Linked DNA regions of Homo sapiens: region 2 is reported to be linked to region 1. Evidence: microRNA targets listed by miRTarBase, many of them from high-throughput screens and not tested one by one. Region 1 holds a microRNA gene; the other region holds the end of a gene's coding sequence.

Region 1 (3,000 bases):
CCTCAGAGAAGCATGTGCATACTCTACCCTGTTGCCTGGCCTGGAGAGGTTCTTGTTCGCTTGTGCATGTCCCCAGCTACACTCAGAGCTCTTGACGGGCATCATTGTGTCTTACTGATTTCTGTAGCCCCAATGCCAAGCTTAGAACCTGGCACCATATAAGTGCTCAATAAACATTTGTTGAATTGAATTGAATTGGAGTCTAGAATGAGACTTAATACTGTAATAAACAAGATACTGTAATATAACACATAGGCATGAGAAGCTTTATTATATAAACAATACCATGGTTCAGTGTGTGCTGTGTCACCTGTTTTCACACTTGGGGACTTCCTCCATTTTATGTGAGTTTTTATGGGTTTGTTTTTCATGCTGTATTTTAGTCTTTTTCCTAAAAATCATCAACTGCAGGGTCCAGGCCTTTCACCATCTAGCCCAGCCTTCTCACCACATGTTCAAGCTGTTCAACCTGCTAGACAGGATTCCTTTTAAGGAGAGTATTTCAAAGAAGAATTAAGACCTATAGGTAGAAGCACAAAGGATTCATCCAGTCTGAAAATGTTTGCTAAGCACCTTTGTTATTCTAAGCTAGGTTCTGTGGGTCCAACAGTGAACAAGACCCAATCCCTGCCCCCAGAGAGTTTAAAGTCTGGTGGAGGAGACCGAGGTATCACTGGTTATTACAATACAGTGAGCCCCACATTGGAAAGACCAGCCACGCTCTTGGTCTCCGTCCCCATAACTCTCACACACCGGCCTGGTTCTACTTTTCAAGGCCCCATAGAACAACCCTACTCTGCCTTTCACACGATAGGCCTTCAGGGTAATTCTAAACAGCTTCCTTACCTCCTCTTAGTTTCTTCAAGCCAAAAATCTTCAGTTCCTTAATTAATTCTCATATAACTTAACTGCCTATTCTCTCACCTTTACAGCTGGCTTTTGGACATGCTTTATTGCATGTTGTTTTGCTCCTATTTGTTCCTCCTTGATCTTTCCTCAGGATTTGACAGATTCTGTCCTTGGCATTGTTCCTCTCTGATACCAGTTCTATCACCCCACCTCCCTGGCATCTCTTTCTACCTCATTGACTTGCCATCTCTCCACCTTTACCATGAATATTAACCAAATTTCTGTTTTCAGCCTCTTATTTTCTCCCATTTTCTCTCATTACTCTTCCCAGGATGTCTGACCCATTCACATGGCTTTGCTGCTTACCTCTGTCTGTCTATAGTTCTGGTCCTGCCCTTTTCTCAAGTCCCAAACCTACATTTTAAATTGCTGGCTGGGCATCATGTTTATCCAGAAAGCAAGCTGTTACATTCTCTTCTATGCCAGCCCTTCCTCCTCACTTCCTCCAGGTTGGAATAGTGCCTTTATCTTCGGCACCATCTTGGAGTCATGCTTCACTCCTTGTGCCTGCCCCCCACCCTCCATCCCACGCTCTTTTCCCATCTGTCTGGCATGACCAGCTTAGTCAATCTTCCTGAAATGTCACTGGAAAAATAACTCCCCTGGTCAAAACAACTTTCAGTGGGGTTTTGTCACCTTTTATGTTTGGGTAAAGGCTTCCACAGTAACATTTAGGCCTCATTTCATTATGGCCTGAGATTGTCTTCTCATCCCTTTCACACACAGTAGCTAAACTAACCCTCCTGTCAGCCCAGAATGCCTCCTTCTTCATTTGGGGAGATCTTACCCATCTTTCTCGGCTTCTTTCACGCACTGGGTCTTCTGTGACTTCACAGCTGACTAGCCTTCACCCTCTGAGTCTCCAAAGCTCTTTGTTCTTCTTGTCAGGCTTACCCTATGCTGCTATAGATGGCTGCAACCCGTGTTCAATTCAGTTCGATAAACACTGTTGAGCACCTACAGTAGCTGAGCCTGGTGCTAGTCACTGGGGCAAAGATGACTAAAACACTTTTCCTGCCCTCGAGGAGCTCACAGTCTAGTATGTCTCATCCCCTACTAGACTGAAGCTCCTTGAGGACAGGGATGGTCATACTCACCTCGGTGTTGCCCAAACCTCCAGGCCAGTAGCCTAGCTAGCTAGATACAGGAAGAGTCACCCAGGCACTGAATTCAAGGCTTAGAACATATGAGTGATTCTTAATACTAAGGAATGCTCCACTGAGGTAAATTATCTCCAAAAAGTATCCAATACATATTTTTAGAACTACATATAATTACTTTAAATAGGTACCTGTAGTATAATTTATGGATATCTTCTTATATACTACTAGCACAGGTAGTTGAGCATTCATTCATTCTGCATTGTTCTGTTTTAGAAATGGTGTTTAACTTTGCGTTTTGAACATATACAATTAGGCTACCAAATAGGCCACCATTTTATATTATAAAATGTCACTATATAATATAATTGCTTACTTGGACATTTGCATATAACAGTGTATCACAATAACTAAATAGGTTATTAATTTTTTTCAAAATTTTTATTATTTCCAAGATTTTAACAAAGAAATAATAAGTTTGGATAGCCCTTTGGTCGTTAAAATTATGGTAGTTAAAAATGTTTCCCAAATCCCATTCTTCTTCTTGACCTCGAAAGAATTCTCCTTCCCTACCTTGAAAGAATATTTGCAAGTAGACTCAAATTACTGTGGGATTCCCCTCATCTTTAACTGGAGTGTATGCGTGTGTATTTTATTTTGTTGAGGCGGGGTCTCCTCTGTTGCCCAGGCTAGAGTGCGGTGGCACCATCTCTGCTGCCTGCAACCTCCACCTCCCATGCTCAAGTGATTCTCCCACCTTAGCCTCCTGAGTAGCTGGGACTACAGGCATGCACACCACACCACCACACCCAGCTAATTTTTTGTATTTTTGGTAGAGATGGGGTTTTGCCATGTTGCCCAGGCTGGTCTCAAACTCCTGAGCTCAAGCAATCCACCCACCTTGGCCTTTCAAAGTACTGAGATTACAGGCATGAGCCACCATGCCCAGCCTTGTATATTTGTTTTTGACTATATTAGTTGAGAAGTGATT
Region 2 (3,127 bases), not on the chromosome of region 1:
CCGCCTTGGCCTCCCAAAGTGCTGGGATTACAGGCATGAGCCACCATGCCCAGTCTACCACGCTTCTTAAACCAGGTCCCTCTCAAGCCCAGATGGTAACTAATTACAAGCAGATGACATGACCTAATATTTGATATTTCTTATGGTGTGCTTAAATGTTCTATTAATTTTTAAAAGGCCATTCCATATTTACAAATAAAAGTTATTTAAAACGCAAACACATTTTTAAAAAATCATACTTTTATGGCTAACGAATCAACATACAAGAGCATTTCAGCTTACTCTGCCTAGCTATAATCACATTCCCTGCACCCTTAAAAGCTGCAGATCAACTAGGTTATATGAGGTTGTTGTCCTGGTCCTTAAGCACCCCCATGAGTCAGTCGACACTAAAGAAGACAGTCCTTTTGCGGGGCACAGAGCCGCTGACCTCGGCTTGAGAAGGGTCTGGGAAGGTGCAGCAGGGCAGACATCTGCCCCAGTCTCCAATGTGGTGACCCCATATCCCAGGGAAGCTTAGGAATTCTCAAAAAGTCAACTGTCACTAGCTTGGTAGCTCCCAGTTCAGCAACCAACACAAAACCCAGCACTGAAGTGCTAAAGAATCACGAAGAACAGTAGGGCAGCATTTGTGACAAAGCCGGGCAGACAGAACGACACAGCTGGTTCTCAGTCTAGCTCCAACGTGCCCGCCTGGGGAACAACAGTCCCGCCTCACACTTACTTGTCAGTAAACCACACAGCTAACTGAATTTTCCCAGCTAAAGAGAGCTCCCTGAGATGAGTGAATATCCCCAGATACCTTCAGCCTAGTAAATATTCAGTTTGCCAAATTAAAGACTAGATTTACATCTTGGAGGAGACCATATTTATATATGAGAATATAAATCATCTGTTACTTCTCCAAAATGTATCCTGACTAGCTCCTACTTTTCTACATTTTCCAGTTCTTTTATTTCCATCATCTGTTCCTCTAAGATTGTTCTCCTTTTTGTGAGACAGGGTCTCACTCTGTCACGAGGCTGGAGTGCAGTGGCACAATCATGGCTCACTACAGTCTCAACCTCCTGGGCTCAGGTGATCCTCCTAGCTCAGCCTCCTGAGTAGCTGGGACCACAGGTGTGCGTGTGCCAACACACCCAGCTAATTTTTGTATTTTTTGTAGCAACAGGGTTTCACCACGTTGCCCAGGCTGGTCTCGAATTCCTGGGCTGAGGTGATCCGCCCGCCTCGGCCTTTTCGGCCTCTCAGAGTGCTGGGATTATAGGTGTGAGCCACCGCGCCCAGCCTCTTCTCCATTCTTGTGGGTATTCCTGTTCATCTGTTTCCCTGAATTAATGTCAATTATCACTATTTCCTAAGTGTCACATTCTTGTTCCTTTTTCTTGACTAGCATGGTTTACTAGAAACAGAAATAACAGCAAAAATATTTAGGTCTTATATAAACAAATATAGTCATCTCGTCTGTGCTTTCAAAGTTAAATTTATTATGCACAGTAATGGGTACCATGGAGACAGGGAAAGGGCTAGAAAGTGGCATCATCTATACAGAGGGAACATATAAAGACTGTCCCGGGGTGTACCCCCCTAACTGTGCTGTCACTCCAACTCTGTCAGAAAGAAAAAGTAGTGTGAGGTGTATTTGTTTGCAAGAAACAAGGTGGAAACTAGATGGACCAGCTGAGCAGGGAGGCCAAGGTCATTTCCATCTATCCCTAATGGTGTTCAGTATAGCCCTCTCCTTCCTGAGACCTAAGAACAGAAGATACGCTTCCACAACAGAGATTTTTGATTTTTTAATGGCAGCACTCTCATAACTACATTCACGGACCAACCAAAGCCATCTCCAAGCCTAGAAAGGATACATACTACACGCAGCGAAAATGCCAACCACTGATCCAGAATTTTCAAGATGGCACCTTTCCCCAAACTTCTATACCATTCATTAAACATAGACTGCAAACTGCTAGCCTGTAGACCAAATTCAACCTCTAAGTATTATTTGCTTAGGTGCCTAAGCATCTTTAAAAATTTGATTTAGTTGGCAATACACTGGGAGGTTTCACATAAATATCTAGGTTTCCAGCTTCTCTGAAGAAATGAGAAAATCCATTCCCACATGGCAACAACCAGCTGGAGCTAACAGCTGTTAGACAGCATGCCGCTCCCCGCTACTGCCTTACACCCAGCCAGCTTCATGTGTGCATGTTATCTGCCTGCCATTCACATCGGTTCTCCTTGCTCAGCAAATGTCCCACCTCAACCTCACACTCAATACCCTTATACAGGTTCCCTAATCAGAGTTCAGTAGGGCACCCACACTATAGCTGGGCAATCCCTGGATGCTGTGATATTTGTTAACCATTATGTTCTTTCCAACCACGGGAACCTTCCTAAGAGCTCAAGAGCTTCACTGCTGGATAAAAACAGTTCCTGATCCCGGATTCTGACCTTTAGTTTTCCTTTTCCAGTCACTGCCCCAGTCTGCCTGGCCCTGGGCTCTGTTCCATATTGGCAATGAGAGCCCACGGCAGGGAGACTTCCAGCAGGCTTTTCCACAGTGCAGCCAAACTATCAGTAAATAGACTTTGTTCTCCATTAAAAGCCCTGTAGCAGCTGAGTTGCTTTACCTTATCCCACCTGGCTCTTACGCAGTCTGTTCCAAGTGAGAAGTTAGCAGAGTCCTGTAAACAAAGAACAGTTCAGGGGCCAACCTGCGCTCCCAGGTGCCAGGATGCTCTCAGGGTCTTCACTGTGCTCCCAGGTGCCAGGGTGCTCCCATGGTCTTCACTGTGCTCCCAGACACTTGGCTTCATTGTTCTCATTTTGATCCTCATTTGGCATCTCTAAACGCAGGCGGTGCAGGGAATGCACAAAGAAGCGAGGAAGTTTGCAGACCAAGTTGAGTTCCTCCTTCCCGGACCCCAGGGCAGGCAGGATCAGCTGCCGGGCGTGCAGGTGAAGGGGGATGTAGCGGGCCTTCGACTGTTCTAGCCCCAGCTTCTTCAGGGTGCCCACAGACAGCTTCTATACAAAGAAAGGACAGACCCTTGAGAGCAAGGCCAACAGTCCACCCTTGACGAACATGCAAGGTCAGGGCACTTCTACTTACAGGGAACCAAAACTA

The links. Region 1 holds the annotated microRNA hsa-miR-151a-3p (CUAGACUGAAGCUCCUUGAGG, at 1,966-1,986, shown strand). A microRNA usually pairs through its seed, bases 2 to 8, with sites in the 3' UTR of a target mRNA and lowers its output. Matches are read on the target gene's strand: a 7mer-m8 pairs with bases 2 to 8, a 7mer-A1 pairs with bases 2 to 7 and ends in A, and an 8mer does both.
Region 2: the mRNA of RPUSD4 is a reported target of hsa-miR-151a-3p. Seed matches in the 3' UTR shown: 7mer-m8 at 1,953-1,959.

Annotation. Positions count from the first base shown.
Region 1 is chr8:140,731,573-140,734,572 of GRCh38, reverse strand. It overlaps MIR151A (microRNA 151a), which reads left to right and starts at 1,920; the gene lies at 1,920-2,009. All of the region lies in intron 25 of PTK2 (protein tyrosine kinase 2), which reads left to right.
Region 2 is chr11:126,200,631-126,203,757 of GRCh38, forward strand. RPUSD4 (RNA pseudouridine synthase D4) reads right to left here. Exons shown (of 7, transcript NM_032795.3): 7 at 1,466-3,027. The coding sequence ends at 2,788. Among named protein-coding and RNA genes, the nearest start is that of RPUSD4, 9.5 kb to the right of the region's middle.